Linked DNA regions of Homo sapiens: region 2 is linked to region 1. Evidence: fine-mapped expression QTL. Tissue or cell type: tibial nerve. Region 1 holds a variant in brackets; the other region holds the start of a gene. All regions are shown on one strand. Distances are from middle to middle.

Region 1 (8,177 bases):
GGGAGGGAGGTGGGGGGGTCAGCCCCCCGCCCAGCCAGTCGCCCCGTCCGGGAGGTGAGGGGCGCCTCTGCCCGGCTGCCCCTACTGGGAAGTGAGGAGCCCCTCTGCCTGGCCGCCACCCCGTCTGGGAGGTGTGCCCAGCAGCTCATTGAGAATGGGCCATGATGACAATGGCGGTTTTGTAGAATAGAAAGGGGGGAAAGGTGGGGAAAAGATTGAGAGGTTGGATGGTTGCCGTGTCTGTGTAGAGGGAGGTAGACATGGGAGACTTCTCATTTTGTTCTGTACTAAGAAAAATTATTCTGCCTTGGGATCCTGTTGATCTGTGACCTTACCCCCAACCCTGTGCTCTCTGAAACATGTGCTGTGTCCACTCAGGGTTAAATGGATTAAGGGCGGTGCAAGATGTGCTTTGTTAAACAGATGTTTGAAGGCAGCATGCTCGTTAAAAGTCATCACCACTCTCTAATCTCAAGTACCCCGGGACACAAACACTGCAGAAGGCCGTAGGGTCCTCTGCCTAGGAAAACCAGAGACCTTTGTTCACTTGTTTATCTGCTGACCTTCCCTCCACTATTGTCCTATGACCCTGCCAAATCCCCCTCTGCGAGAAACACCCAATGATCAATTAAAAAAAACAAAACAAAACAAAACAAAAAAAAACATTATATTATCGACTATACCTTAAATTATAATAAAAAGTTATATATGTAAAAAAAAAAAAAAGTAAGTGAAAGCCAGCCCCGCCCCTCTCCCAGAGTGGGCGGGGACAGCAGTTCCATGGGAGGCTTTCCTTGTGACATCACAGGACCTTCATGACCCGCAGCTGCCTGGCCCCGCCTCCTTTCCCTTTCATCTTTCTCATTGACCAATGGGCTTGGAGCATTAAGGCCACGCCCCTTTTCCGCATTCTAGTGCAGCCCCGGTGACGCCTCCTGTGGCTCAGTCACATAGCTGTGTGGTACGTGACTGGAGGCATATCACTGTCCTCGCCTGGATCACGCCAATGTGACCCCAACCCCACCACCCTCCCCACCCCATGATGTCCGAAAAAACCCAACAAAGAAAATTGGCTGGGACCAAGAAAAAGGTAAAACGCATCGGATTGCAGCACCCCAACCCCAACCCAGCCCCAGGTCCCCTCTGATGGCAGAACAGCTGCCAGAATCCGTGTCACTCCAGAGGCACGCAGGGCCGGGCCCCCCCCAGTGCCTCTGGGCTCCCCCAACCAAAATCTTGTGTCAGCCCCAACCCCTCAGCAGTCCTGCCCCTGCCCTCACCGGTCACCCCAGGGTGACTTTCAGCCGGTGACTCGTGGGGCTCCCTGCTTTGTACTCTGCCCTCACCTCCTATTGTCCAAAAATGGATCTCCCTGGGCCCTTCGGGCTCACGTTCCCAAGGAACCGGATGCCCCAGCACCTGCCCTCACCAGTCACCCCAGGGTGACTTTGGGCAGGTGACTCCTGGGGCTCCCCACTCCATACTCGGCCCTCACCTACCGCTGCCCCAAGCCTGACTTCCCTGGGCTCTTTGGGCTCACGTCTCCAAGTACCTGGGTCCCAACCCTGTGACCCCATGCCAATCTCAAAGAGGCAACTTGGGCACAGCACTGATGGGATAATGGGTTTGGTTTGGTTTTCTCCCAGGCTTCTACTCTCCAGAGAGACTTTAACAGTTTTTTCTAAGTTCTCCACTTCATATTTGAATTCTCCATGGTTCTGGGACCAGAGTGCCCATCAGTCAGTGATCTTTGAAGTGAGATTTGCTCATCTTCTGTGCAAGAGATCTTGGGAAACTGGACTTGACAACTTGAATCTTCCTCATCTCATCTCAACCTGGGGTACTTTGAGTGCCACAGGATACATATGGGGCATCTTTCTGAAGCATCAGTTTTCCTTGATTCTCGTGGGAGACACAAAACATTAATGTTCTTAGGGATGATAGTCACATAGATTTCAAAGAGTATACAAGACTTCTCTCTGAAATGCAGCTTGGGTTGTCCTCTTTCTGTTTAATTCCCACATTTAACAGAAAGGCTGCCTTCTGCCCTGAGGATACATGACTCTAAGAGGATGTACGACTGTAAACCACACAGTGTACACCTTCCTGCCTACTTTTTACTTTTCTACCTCTGCCTCTGGTTTTGGTCTCTGGCAGCTGCTGATTTGTGGCAACACCCCAGAGCTCAGAGTCAGAAGACTGAGTTTCAGTTCCATTATTGCCTTTCTTTTAGCCATGGTATCAATCCCTCTCAGTCACTAAGTGATTGCGACAACACCTCGTACAGTCGTTGGTGGCATTAAGTCAGATCGTCTATGAGAGTATTTTGTATAAACTGTAAAGTGACTGTAGGAGCTTGTAGTTCTCATGAGTATCACTGCTCCTCTTTTCCACAGTTTACAGACTATCATCAGTGGAACAGTGCTGGTGTTGGTACCGGAGCAACCGACACCAAAAAGAAGAAAATAAATCATGGCGCTAACCCTGAGACAACCACTTCGGGGGGCTGCCACTCGCCTGAGGATGTGAGTCTTGGCTGGCCGGTCTCCTGAGGACAAGGGGCACAAGGGGGAGGTCGAGGGTAACTGTTAAGATTGTGGAAGGAAGAACTGCTGGGTACTGGCTAAGAATTCTGGGTTTGAGTCCTACTTCTCTCTCCAACTGCGAGGGACACGGTTTAGGGAAAATTGCTCGAGCTCTTTGGGCCTCTCTTTTCACATCTGTAAAATGGGGATGGTAATGTTTTACTTACATGTGTGAAGCTTAAATCAGATTTGTTGCTGTTGTTTTTGTGTTAATCCCTAGTCCAGGGCCTGCTGTAAGCTCCCCTCCTCTTTGGGCTTCCGTTTCCTGAGGAGGTAGAGTTAGAGTATCAGAGGTTCTGTTTGCTCTGAGAGTCTGAGATTTAAAGATTCACTAGAATGGAAACCTTGGGGCCAAGGGCTCCTGTCTGCCTTTTCCGTCCTATATCCCAGCAGTGAAGAACCGTCCCCGGCCCCTATGTGCTTGCTCAATGCTTGTTGAATGAACACATCTTTCTCCATCACAAGCTGGCAGAAGGGTGGGCTTTTCTCACACTCTTATGTCGGAAGGTTTATGTTACTGTCTTTTCCAGAGAATCTAGTTTCAGACTTTCAGTTCTGTGGCTGTGGGCAAAAGCCAACAAAGACCCAAATCCTTTTTCTTTGGGCGTTAAGGAAAGTTGACCAGTTTGTGTTCCCATTGGGTCTGAGAACTTTGCCCTTAAAATCCATTCCTGACCCCTGCCTACCGCTTCCTGGCCTGGGGAATAGAGTCGAGGGACCACCCTCAGTCACCTTCCTTTGACTCTCCCCACAGAAACAACAGAACCGAGCTCAGCTGAAAGAGGTAACATGGTTTCTTTCTTTGCTCACGACATGACCGCTGGGTTTGGGGGGCACTCAGATGTAGAGGCCCCAGTCTCGTCTCGCCTACTCCCAGCTTGGGGAGGAAGGCTCACCTCCCAGCTTCCACCCCATCCCCACAGGGTCCCTGATAACCTGGTCCCATGGGTGGGCCTGTCCTGGGACAGTGGGGCCATTCTGGGGGCATGTCTCTTGCTGTGCCATCTCTGCCTCCCTCTAGTAAGAGCTCTGTCTTCCTCTTCTTTTCTATAGGAAAATAAGGCAAGCCACCAACATCAGCAAGCCCTAAGGAGGCAGCTAGAGGTGAGTGGAGGGTGTGAAGTTCCCTCCTGTCCTCTGGAGAAGGTTTCTTTGCTTCTCTTTCAGCACTTGCTTTTCTTGTCTCCCAAAGGCCCAGGATCATACCATACGAATCCTTATGTGTCAGAAAACTGAACTGGAGACAGCGCTCCATGACAGCCAGGATGCTGCCAGGAAATTTGAAGGTGGGAATCTGGGCACCCCGTCATCCTTCAACCTGGCACTTTCACAGGCCTTTGGGCTGCAGCTCAACCTCTCTCATTCCAGAAGATTCCAAGGATCTGGCAGCCCGCCTGCATCATTCCTGGCACTTTGCAGGAGAGTTACAGCGGGCTCTCTCTGCTATGTCCGCAGAGCACGAGAGGGCGGACAAGGTGAGTCCAACCACCTACCCGGTCCCCTGGGAGCCCAGCTTCGCAGATGGAGGAATGAGCCTAAAGGTCCCTTCTGCAGGATGCAGTGTCCTGCCCAGAAGACAGCATGGGCCATTTCTTGCTGCTTTTGTGCGTGGTTGTTAGAGGCAGGTTGGGGCTGAGTCAGCTGCTGTGGGTGAGTTGCGGGGCGCTGTGGGGAGCGAGCACTGGACACAGAGCTCGGAGGCCAAGTGCCCACCCCACCCATACTTGGCTGTGGCCTTGGTCAAATCCTAGGCGGAGTTGAGGGTACTTGTACCATGAAGGTACAGAAGAGTATCTTTAGTATGTTACCATTTGTGTAGAGAGAGGGAACACATGTACGTGTGTGTGTGTGTGTGTGTGTGTGTGTGTGTGTGTGTGTACGTACGTATTATGGTAATATACATAAAACATGTTTGTAAGGATTCATAAAAAACTCAGGAGAGAGGAACAGTGTTGGGGGAAGATATTTCCCTTCTGTACCTTCTGAGGTTTGGACTATGCCAATGTATCATTCTTTCAAAAATCAACAAAGGATTAATTTCCTCCTCCTTATCTGTGCCCCTACCCCCAACCAAAAGAATGGGCTTAGAGAATCAGATATACCTGGGTGTTGAAATCCCAGCTCTAAGTGATCTTAGGCAAGCACTTAACCTTTAATACCCCATGTTTTTCATCTACACAATAGAGGTGATAATGATAACTGTCTCCTGTGGTGGCTGTGAGGATTAAATGGGATTGTTAGCATAGTGCCTGGTGAAGCACTCAAGAAAGGTTCCAACAGTGGTAATAATAACAGTAATAGCAATAACAATATTATCTGATCGCTCTGGGCCCCTGTTAGCCAGCTATCAATTCAGTCTCTTTCTCTGTGCC[T/C]TCCACCCTTACTGAGTTCTCCGAAAAACAAGTGAGAGCCAGGTGCAGTGGCACATGCCTGTAATCCCAGCTACTTAGGAGGCTGAGGCAGAAGAATCGCTTGAAGCCGGGAGGCGGAGGTTGCGGTGGGGTGAGATCGCGCCATTGCACTCCAGCCTGGGCAACAAGAGCGAAACTCCATCTCAAAAAAAAAAAAAAAAAGAAAAGAAAAACAAATGACACCACGGGTTTGGAAACGCCTTGAGAACATGTCGGGTGTGACGGAGAGGAGCAAGTGTTACTGTGGAGTATCAGTGTAGCTGTCGTTACTGGTCGTCCAGCTGCTCCTCTGCCTGCTGTATCCTGACTTGACCTTTCTCTGTTTGCAGTACATCAAGGAGTTAACAAAGGAGAGGGAAGCCATGAGTCTGGAGCTGTTCAGGAACATGTAGGATAGGGGAGGGGGGGATGGGAGGTCTGAGAGCCCTTAGCGTGGGTGGTGTGCTGGGAGGTGGGGGGTACAGGTGAGCATGGTAGGGGGTCATACAGGTTTACATGTGTGTGCAGGGAAGCTCCAGTGCCGGCTGTGCCACTGACTCATGGGGTAGCCTCAGGCAACTCATGTCTTCTCTCTGGCCTGCCACCTGGGACTTTTAATTCCTGGGGTCCCTTCCAGTGCCACGGTTCTGTGGTTGTGGGGCGAGGGTAGAGGGTCGATCACCAAAGCGGTCCTTTCTGTTCTTCGTTCATTCCTTTCTCTACTGCCTCCGGCCATAGCATAACCAATAAGGAGCTGAAGGAGAAAAATGCCGAACTACAAGAAAAACTTCGACTGGTAGAAACTGAAAAGTCTGAGATCCAGCTCCACATCAAGGAGCTAAAAAGGAAACTGGAGACGGACAAAATCCCGCTGCCACAGGTGAGCGGCGGCAGCCCCGGGGGTGTGGGAGCCGCATCCGGCTGGGACATGGTCTAGGGATCATGCAGGGTGTGGGGAGGCTCCAGCCAAGAGCTGGAAAATTTGGGTCCTTGTTCTGGTCCCACCACAGAATCCTCTAGAGTGTGCTAAAAATCTACAAATTGGGACCATGCCTGGGAAATCAGAACCTCAGGGTTACGGCTTAAAATTTCTTTTTAAAGAATCATAGACGAAAACCGTTATTTTATAGATTACATTTATATACCTAGCTTATGACTCTATTTCCTTTTGAGGTTCAAACCAACACTTTGCAGGAGAAGATGTGGAGGCAGGAGGAGGAGCTACGGGATCAGGAGGAGCTACGGGATCAGGAGAAGCTACGGAAGCACGAGGAGAAGATGTGGAGACAGGAGCAGAGGCTGCGGGACCAGGAGAAGGAGCTGCGGGAGCAGGAGCAGCAGATGCAGGAGCAGGAGGAGCAGATGCGGAAGCAGGAGGAGCAGATGCGGAAGCAGGAGGAGCAGATGCGGAAGCAGGAGGAGCAGATGCGGAAGCAGGAGGAGCAGATGCGGAAGCAGGAGGAGCAGATGCGGAAGCAGGAGGAGCAGATGGGGAAGCAGGAGGAGCAGATGGGGGAGCAGGAGGAGCAGATGCGGAAGCAGGAGAAGCAGATGCTGAAGCAGAAGGAGCAGATGCGGAAGCAGGAGGAGCAGATGTGGAAGCAGGAGGAGCAGATAGGGGAGCAGGAGGAGCAGATGCGGAAGCAGGAGGAGCAGATGTGGAAGCAGGAGGAGCAGATAGGGGAGCAGGAGGAGCAGATGCGAAAGCAGGAGGAGCAGATGTGGAAGCAGGAGGAGCAGATGGGGGAGCAGATGAGGAAGCAGGAGGAGCAGATGGGGGAGCAGGAGGAGCAGATCCGGAAGCAGGAGGAGCAGATGGGGGAGCAGGAGGAGCAGATGCGGAAGCAGGAGGAGCAGATGGGGGAGCAGGAGGAGCAGATGCGGAAGCAGGAGGAGCAGATGGGGGAGCAGGAGGAGCAGATGAGGAAGCAGGAGGAGCAGATGGGGGAGCAGGAGGAGCAGATGGGGGAGCAGGAGGAGCAGATGCGGAAGCAGGTGGAGAGGCTGCAATTCAAGGAGGAGAGGCTGTGGGATGAGTATGAGAAGATGCAGGAGGAGGAGGAGAAGATCCGGAGGCAGGTGGAGAAGAGGCGGGAGAAGAAGGAGAGGATGGGAGAGCAGGAGAAGACGCAGGAGGAGCGGTGCTCAGAGCCCTGCCTCCCTCCCTCCAAATATCCTTCTGATATGAGCCACCCTGGCAGCCTGGAGCCTGCACGAGAGGCCGGGAAGGGTTATTCCCATGACAACCGCACTGCACAGATCATGCAGCTGCCCCCTGGAATGAAGAACGCCCAGGAGCGCCCAGGCTTAGGCAGCACCTCCTGCATCCCATTCTTCTACGGAGGAGACAAGAAAAAGATCAAGATCATCAGTATCTAAAAAGAACGGTCAACAAGGCCTACAGAAGTGTAAGCCGCCATGTGACCTTGTGAATACAGTCTGAGAACAAACTTGAAAAAAAGAAAATTTATTTTAAATTGTGGCAAAATACTGGCCGGGCACGGTGGCCTGCACCTGTAATCACACCACTTTGGGAGGCCTAGGCGGGTGGATCACCAATCCCAGCTACGTGGGAGGTTGAGGTTGCAGTGAGCTGAGATCACACCACTGCACTCCAGGCTGGGTGACAGAGTGAAACTCCCATTTCAAAAAAAAAAAAAAAAATTCTACCTGAGGACTCTAATATCTATGTATGTTTCTATTGTTTTTTTTGTTTGTTTTCTCCTTTTGTCTTGCGTTGTCTTGTCTTATGGCATGCCTAGTAAAGTTTTATCTGCCTCCAGAGAGTACTGACTTTGACTTTATGGCACACAATTGGCGTTCAAGCAGATCGCCTTCATCTAGTTTGGGACTAAGCTGGCTCAAAGCAGGTTTTAGTTTTTGTGACAGCTGGTCTATTTTTTATTCTTTTGGACTCTTAGGGGTGGCCCTTCCAGGATCCCCACCAAGGTCTCATCTCCTTACTGGGACCCAAATTCTCATTATGTCATTTCAGCCCTGTGAGAGTGCCAAACATTCAGCTAGGCTCTCCAGCCTCTTAACTATCACTTCATACTCAGTTTCTTAGCCTCTTAGCCCTCTACTGTTGACCGATCACCAAATGTGGGAAAAGCACTAAGGACTGTCAGGATCACCTCCTAGGCCTGGTCACTCAAGTCCTGGCTGAGGTCCCCAATTACCTTCCAACAATTGTTTTTGATGG
Region 2 (8,177 bases), 40 kb before region 1:
TAGCTACTGGGGATCCAGAGGTGAACAAAGTCTTTTACAATTGAGTGGTAAGAGACTGACAATAAACAAACAAGTAAATAAATAACACACTGAATGGTGAGTACTAAGGAGAAACACAAAGCAAGGTTAACAAGAGAAACACAAAGCAAGGTTAACAAAGCCAATTTATGTAGGGCTTTCAGGGAGTGGGCAATAAGTGAGGGGCCAGCCATGTGAGCATCTGGGGGTGGCTCATGCCAAGGGGGTGGGAACAGCAGGTGCAAAGGCCCTGAGGCAAGAGTGGCCTGACAAATCTGAGGACCAAGGAATAAGAGGGAAAGAGCCCACATTCAGTTGGGATCTCCAGGATGGACATGCGCCAAGATGACAGGTGGGGATGGGGTGGGGACAACCCAGGGCAGATCTGGGCAGTAAGCCTGTCTGCCTGGAGCCAGGGCAGCCTGGAGGGGCCATTCTTGGGAGCAAGTGGGGGAACTTGAGAAAATCCAGCCGAGTAACGTGGATGTGGAGGGAGCACTGGAAAGCCACTGAAGGCCTGGGCAATGGTGACACACCTGGCCTGGGCCAACTTGCAGAGTCAGGAGTACCCCACAGCCCCCAACCTGGGAAACCTCACAGCCAGCACAGAAATCACAATGCACACAGCAGTGGCACCCCACCAGTACGTAGGGTTCCACAGAGTGAGCCTGGCTGCATGATCTTGAGGTCACCTACCTCCCAGGGCTCCCTTGTGTGTCTGGACAGGGAGAGAGGGGAAGATTGGCTTCAGGGGAGGCGAGAAAAGACGGTGCCCACGACAGCTGACTCAGCCTGTGCCAGCAGGCTGCTCTGAGACACGAGCTGGACCCAACCCAGGCGGTGGGCGGCAGGGGGTTGGGGAGGAACTCTGGGAAACGAAGGAGCCAGAGAAGCCTCCCTGTGGGCACTCGGGCCAACCACCACCCAAGGGAACAAAGAGCACCCCCAGCCCCCGCTGGGCACACAGGCTGCCTCCTGGTGAGCAACCCTCTCAAACTTCACCCCCAGCCCCCACCGGGCACACAGGCTGCCTCCTGGTGAGCAACCATCTCAAACTTGACCTACATCGGGGAGGCCTGCCTGGTGGTCAGTGGCTACCTTACATCCTACCTGTGCCTCCACGTTCCCAGTCCTCACAGCCACCTGGCAAGGGTGAGGAACTGAGACTGCATGGGGAGGGCACGCAGCCTGTGAGTGATACAGCCAGGACCGCCCGCCACCCAGGCCCAGAGCTCTCTCCACTCTCCCCATTCTCTAAGGACCAGGCTGCAAGGCAGGGCATGTGATCTCTGCCGAAGACATTCGAGCCACCCAGTGATGTGTGCTGGGTCTCGATCCCCACCGACCGCCAGTCCTCTCCTCCCCTGGACAGTAAAGGTTTCTCCACGACTTCGGACCATGGTGTCACCTGAGGCCCACACCTGTTGAGTCACCGGGGCAGGTATGCGTGGCAGAGGACAGCCAGGAGCGCCGGAGAGGAGCTGAGGCCTCGAGGGGGTCTCTGAAGCCAGGCTCAACCCCCACTCTCCCCACTCCAACAGCCCTCACCACAGCCACCGCCGCCCAATCCAAACAAAGCCCAGCCTGATGCCAACCTCACCATCAACTGTTTTTCCTCTGACTTCCTCAGTTTTGTCTAGGAAAAATCAAGGTGTCTTATCACCCCTCTCAGCTTCCAGGGGTGTGATCAGTGTCTTTTACAATTATCTCTTATTTTTATCCAGTATTTCTTAGCTCAGTTGGCAAACTAGGTATTTATGCACCTCCATTTCACAATCCATCCCCACCAATTATGCCTGTAAAACTAACATTTTGTTGAAAAAAAGAGGTTAGAACTACTTAAAAAGGTTTTGTAAACAAGTTAACTAGCAGGCCACAACTTGAGTCTAGGGTGTCAGAGAAAACATGCAAGGTGGAAGAGAATGAGGAGCTGACGGTCACCAGTTTCACCTCCTTCCAGCGCCCACCCAACTCTCCTGCTCACACACACTCACACCCCGTGGGACTCAGCCTGCAGCTCCTCCCATCCCAGGAGCCCAGGAGACCGGCAGTAGGGAGGGGCACAGACCACACTTCCTAATAAATAAGAGGGAAGACTCGGTGCCCCATCGCTAATGCCATCACCCAGTCCCAGCCCAGCCATGGAGCCCACTCCAAGGGCCCCCCTGACAGTGCTGCTAGAGCCCACCGAGGGAAGGCTGCCGGCACACAGCCACAAGCTCCAGCTTTACCCACTCACGCCCTGGACATTGCCTGGAGCCCCAGCGTTCCAGGTCCGTGTCACCCTGGCCCTCCTGCCTGGCAGATCCTAAGCTCAGGAGACCCTCTCCAGCCCAGGCTGCAGGGGGAAGCAGCCCCCACGGTCACCCAGGAATCAGCACAGAGGGCAGGGCATCCTGGACGCCCTGGACTGGGAAACCCAGATCCTGTCCCCTGCGTAGTGGCGACACACAGGAGAAACCCCTGCCTCACCTCATTGGAGGGACCCTGACCCAGAGGCCTGAGAAAAAGCCACCTGCAGGCTCCTGGCACCTGCCAACCTGCACCTTAGGAAAACTCGTCCCACTTCAACCTGCAAAGCTCTCGGGTCATTATTTCTAAAATCACTGTCCTTTCTCAAAGAGGAAGGAAAACAGAAAAATAAAACAAAAACAAAAACAGAAAGAGGCACAGGAGGTTGAAGAGGCCAGAGGCAGTTTAGCCCAAAAACAGTGCCAGACGCAAGATGCCGAGTTCGGGGTGCCTCACCCTCCACATGCCCATTTAGGAGCTGACTGCACTCAACCACAGATTTATGTCTGGTGCCTGCCAGGTCGTATCTGAATAGATCTGAAAAATTAAGCCTTCCTTCTGCCAGTAAATACGAAGTTAAGACTAGCAGGCCCCTCTAAGGCTCTGCTCTCCACGGCGGTCCTCGGCAGGCGTCGGAGAAAGGAAGTTCGCCCCCTCCCCGCCTGGGCACACCGAGGCCCGCTGCCCGGCCCATGGCGCCCTGCTTGGGGACCGGGGGCCTCGATGTTCTCCTTCACCATCTGCAGCCAGATCTCCCGCCAGCAGCCTTGCCAGGCAGTGCCTGCCATGGGGAAGGGGCCAGGCCGAGGGGCAGGTCCGCGCCGTGCCCCCAACCGGGCACCTGCAGCCCAGGAGCAACGGGGTGTGGGGTTTTGAATTGATAAGTTTTCCCCTCTGGGCCTTATTATAAAGGGAAAGGGAAGGGGGCGAAGATCTGGGCTTGGGTTCTCTGGGGGCAGCGAACCCAGAGGCGACCCCAAACTCAGTAGTTGCCGCCCGGCACGGGGACTTGATGCCGGTGCCAAGCAGCCCGGCCAGCCCGGCAGGAGTCGAGCGGACAGCCCCGCCACACAGCGCCTCTTGTCCGCGCCGGGTGGCCCCTTGCCGCGGTGCCCCCCGCGCGGGATGCGAGAGCCGCCGCCTGGTCCCCGCCCCGCCCGCCCACCCGTCGTGGGAGGGGGAAGCGGCCGGTCAGAGAGGAGTGGGGCCGCCGGGCTGTACCCCCATATCCCAGCGGCGGCCGCCCCGCAGCCACGCTGAGTCGGGAGGGCAGCGCTCTGGAGCGCTCGGGCCGCAACCTCCGCGCCGCCCCCCACGCGTCCGGGTCCTCGCGGCGCCCCGGGCGGCCCCAGGCTGCCGCCGCCGGCAAGTCAGGCAGCCCAGGTTCCCCAGCTTACCTGGCCAGGGCGCTGGGCTGCCCGGGTACGCCGCCGTCCCCGCCCCGCTGCCGCCGGCTCAGTCCGCGAGGCCGAGCTCTTTGTGAGCCCGCGCCGAGCCGCACACCGCGACTGCTAATGAGCCCGGGAAGCTGAATAGCTTCCCGAATAGCGGCGGGCGCGCCCCGGACGCAGCGTACGGCACGCAGGGCCGCCTCTGCCGGGCGCACGCGGCGCGGCTGCGGGGCGCATCCCGCACCGGCCTGCGGCTGCCGGGCCTGCGCCCCCGCCCCGGCCGCTTCCGCCTCACCCGCGCCGGGCACACTGGGGCCGGAAAACGATTCCCGGCTAGATCGCGCGCCGTGAAGAGAGGGAAGACAAAGATGCGTCCGTGCCGGGCGTGCGCGAGGTCCTGCGCCCCCTGGCCCCGGCGCTGGGACAGTCTGCAGGGCAGGAGGGTGCACTCGGGACCCCGGGTCCCCCCGGGCCGGTCTCCGGGATCGGGGCTGGGACCCAGGCGCTGGAAGGCGCGGCGCCCCGAACGCCCCGGGCCCTGGGGAGCACACAGATTCCCGGGCGTGCCCCGGCCGTGCTGGCTGGGGAGCTGCAGGGGTCTGGTCCCGCAGGTAGAGCCAGTGAACGCGAGGCTCCGCAGGTAGAGCCGGTGAACGCGAGGCTCCGCACCTTGCCCCGGCCGCCGCGCCCTGCTTGCTCGGCCCCGCGCAGCTGTAATGGGGGACCCTAGAGCGAAGAACCCTCGAGCGAAGAACTCTCGGGGATCGCGGCCTCCGAAGGCCCCATCCGGCAGAGGAGGCCCCCTGCTGCCTCCCCACCGCAGCTCCCCTAGGCGCATGCTGGACTCCCAAGTCTTCCCTGGCGGTCCCCGGTAACCATCCCAGCACCCCGTTTCTGATACTCTGTGCTGCTTTAGCCCCCAGCCCCAGGGCCTCACTCCAGGGCTTTCTCTCCTTGCTGTCCTAAATGGAGAGAACCCTGACCTCCGCGGGGCCCTGGGGAGCGTACACTCCTAGACACTCACATGCATCCCCAGGGGAGCCAGTCTTCCGCCCCTACAGCGCGAGAAATGCCCTGGAGGCCCTCGAAGGTCGTGCTGGAGACTCCGGTGTCACCTTTGGCCCTCTGGCCCTTTCACTGAGTCCCAGGCAGATGTGATGAGCCATGGGAGATGCACAGGATGCCTTGTCTGGGCAGAGCGGGGGCTCAGGGGCCTCCCTCCCCCCAAATCGTGGTGATTTGCCCTCGTTTTCTTTTCTCCTGTGGCTGGATTAGGCGAAGCTGTGGCATGGGAAGTTCTGCCCAGGTCAGAAGGCACAGAAGGGCAGGGGGACTTGGGAGTGAGGACAGCGCATCTTCCTGCTGCCCTGAGGGCCCGAGCTGAGACCCTAAGGAGAAGGGGCTGGGGGAAGCCGAATCCTGAGATGGACTAGGGTTAGATACACTGTGGACTTGGCCTCTCCACACCCTGCCCCCACCAAACATTCACAGGTTTCCAGGGCCAGAGCCGCCAGTGGGGGCTGCTCCTGGTAGGGGAGCTTTGTAGCCACAGGGCCAAACAAAGGGGCAAAGGCCAGGGCAGGCCAACGAGGTTCCTGACCTATGCCCCTCCGTACTCAGATGAGCACACCTTCACTGTCTACTTTCCACCTGCATAGACATTCTGCTTACCTGGCTAACACAAAGTTCATCCAGCCTCCTGTGGCCCAGCCTTTCACCAATGCCAATAGTGGGAAGCAACAATTAAGAAGAAGTGATTCTGAGAAGATAAATGCAGTCATCTTCTTGCCTTACTGTTATGTGGTCACATCCCATAGGAAACCAGACACCTGTGCCTGAAGCTGATCCACACAACACCCCCCACCTCCTCAAACCCCCACCCCCATCTGTGTGAACGTGTGTGGGCCGGTAAGTTGCATGCTGTTCCTTCAACAGCCTCCCTTGAGATCTTCCCATGAGCAGGCTCTGGGCCAGTCACTGGAAATTAAACCCCATCGCAGCACCCGGGAGTGATAGTGGCTGAAGTCCTCAGTCCACAAGATGAAAGGTATAGGCCTAGGGCCAAGAACAGTGGCTCCCACCTATAATCCCAATACTTTGGGAAGCTGAAGCAGGAGGCTCGCTTGAGCCCAGGAGTTCAAGACTGCAGTGAGTTGTGATCGTGCCACTGCACTCCAGCCTTGGTGACAGAACAAGACCCTATCATTTTAAAAAATGAAATAAATTAAATAAATTTAAAAATAAAGGTACAGGCCTGCCCCCAGCCTCACTCAGGACTCCTAAATCTGGTGAGCTTGAGCCAACTGCCAGTATTCAGAGAATTTTTGAAGAATCATTAGGACAAACAGTTAGTGCATGTGAGGCTTAAAACCTAGATGACAGGTTGATAGGTGCAGCAGACCACCATGGCACACATATACCCATGTAACAAACCTACACGTTCTGTACTTGTATCTGGGAACTTAAAATTTTAAATTTAAAAAAAAAAAGTATCTTGGAATGGGAAAGGCCTTTCTAAGTATGCAACAAAATCAAAAAGTGGTAACAAAAAAACAGCTAAGTTTGACTTCAAAGAAACTCTGGCATGGCAATCACTACCATAAGCAAAGTCTACAACAAAGGGGAAAAAATTATTTGCAATTCATATCACAAGCAGCTAATTTCCCTAACACATAGATAGCATCTAGAAATTGATAAGAAAAAAAAAATCAAAAGAAGGCATCACGGATCATCACCAGGCCCCCACCTTGGCTCACACCTGTAATCCCAGCTACTCAGGAGGCTGAGACAGGAGGATCACTTAAGCCCAGGAGTTCCAGGCTGCAGTGAACTATGATCATCCCAATGCACTAAGCCTGGGCAGCAGTATGAGACTGTCTCTTAACAGAAAAGACAAAGAAACAGGTAAAGGGTAAGAAGCAGACAATTCACAGGGAAGGAAATACAAATGACTTTTAAACATCTGAAAAGCTGTCCTCCCTTATTCATAATAAGAAATGCAAATTAAGCCAGGCATGGTGGCTCACACCTGTAATCCCAACACTTTGGGAGGCCGAGGCAGGTGGATCACTTGAGGTCAGGAGTTTGAGACAAGCCTGGCCAACACGGTGAAACCCCGTCTCTACTAGAAATACAAAAATTAGTTGGGCATGGTGGTGAGCACCGGTAATCCCAGCTACTTGGGAGGCTGAGGCAGGAGAATCGCTTGAACCTGGGAGGCAAAGGTTGCAGTGAGCTGAGATCGCACCACTGCACTTGAGCCTGGGCAACAGAGTGAGACTCCATCTCAAAAAAAGAAAAAGAAATGCAAATTAAAACTATGCTGAGATGTCATTGTGTTCACTGATCAGAGACCCAGGAGTTCAGTAATACAATATATTCCAGAAAGCAAGAGGAAACTGGCAGATACCCACACTGCCCATGGGAGTGTAAATCAGTACAACTTCTGTGTAGGAAAATCAGATGATGTCTATCAAAATTACAAATGCACAAGCTCTTTGACCTAAGAATTCACTTCTAGGAATTTTTTGACTTGTATATCACACGTGCAAAACAGGCATGAGTAGAATCATTCATGGTGCTATGTTTCTGTAGTAAGTGACTGCAGACAATCTTGATACCCATGAAAAGGGCACTGTTCAATGCATGAGGGCACTTCCCAACACTGAAATAGAATGCAGCCATAAAAGAAGGAAGAAACGCATGATAAATTAACATGGGAAGTTCTCCAAGATAATTGTTAAGTGAAAGAACAAAGGGCAGAAGATGTGTGTAGTATGCCACCATGTGAGTAAAAAAAGCAAAAAGGAAAAAAGGGTGAGCCTATAGATGCTCATATACAATAATAAAGCCTTTCTGGAAGGATCACAGTAAACTGAAAAATGTTGTCACCCTTGGGAAAGAAAGTAGTGTCTGGGGCGGGGGTGACAGGAAAACTTTTCAGTGATTTTCCTTTTCCTTTACTTTTTCTTTTTTTTTTTTTTTTTTGAGACAGAGTCTCGCTCTGTCACCCAGGCTGGAGTGCAGTAGCTCTGTCTTGGCTCACTGCAAGCTCCGCCTCCTGGGTTCACGCCATTCTCCTGCCTCAGCCTCCAGAGTAGCTGGGACTACAGACGCCCGCCACCATGCCCGGCTAATTTTTTGTATTTTTTAGTAGAGACGGGGTTTCACTGTGTTAGCCAGGATGGTCTCGATCTCCTGACCTCGTGATCTGCCTGCCTCGGCCTCCCAAAGTTCTGGGATTACAGGCATGAGCCACCGCACCTGGCCAATTTTTAATTTTTGAAGTATATGATATTATCTATCTCTGAAAAAAAAATGTAATTATCATTCTTAACCCTGGTTTTTAACCCTTTGGAGGGTAAAAGATCTCTGAAATCTTTTGTCTATTGTTTTAGGGGGAAAAAGAAGAACAAGGAAGGTCTGTGACTATATGTTTGGACCACATGGCTGTGATCCCTACCACCACTTAGTGAC

Which allele goes with the higher level. Positions count from the first base shown, and alleles are read on the strand shown. Sizes are in standard deviations (SD) of each study's normalised expression.
With allele T in place of C in region 1, the expression in tibial nerve of the gene that starts at base 4,012 in region 2 is lower (moderate effect, 0.52 SD a copy in GTEx).

What was found. PIP is the estimated chance that this variant, and not a neighbour inherited with it, causes the effect.
Region 2: APBA2 starts here. The variant in region 1 is fine-mapped to the expression of APBA2 in tibial nerve (GTEx, PIP 0.98).

The regions. Positions count from the first base shown.
Region 1 is chr15:28,841,412-28,849,588 of GRCh38, reverse strand. GOLGA6L7 (golgin A6 family like 7) reads left to right here and starts at 945. Exons shown (of 9, transcript NM_001365371.2): 1 at 945-1,090; 2 at 2,397-2,525; 3 at 3,340-3,369; 4 at 3,639-3,689; 5 at 3,778-3,871; 6 at 3,954-4,060; 7 at 5,326-5,384; 8 at 5,714-5,855; 9 at 6,149-7,757. The coding sequence starts at 1,040. The coding sequence ends at 7,354. It also overlaps the pseudogene PDCD6IPP2. RefSeq lists a silencer at 677-811 and an enhancer at 4,563-5,109. The variant T/C (reference allele first, on the strand shown) is at 4,958.
Region 2 is chr15:28,881,809-28,889,985 of GRCh38, reverse strand. APBA2 (amyloid beta precursor protein binding family A member 2) reads right to left here and starts at 4,012. Exons shown (of 15, transcript NM_001353788.2): 1 at 3,708-4,012.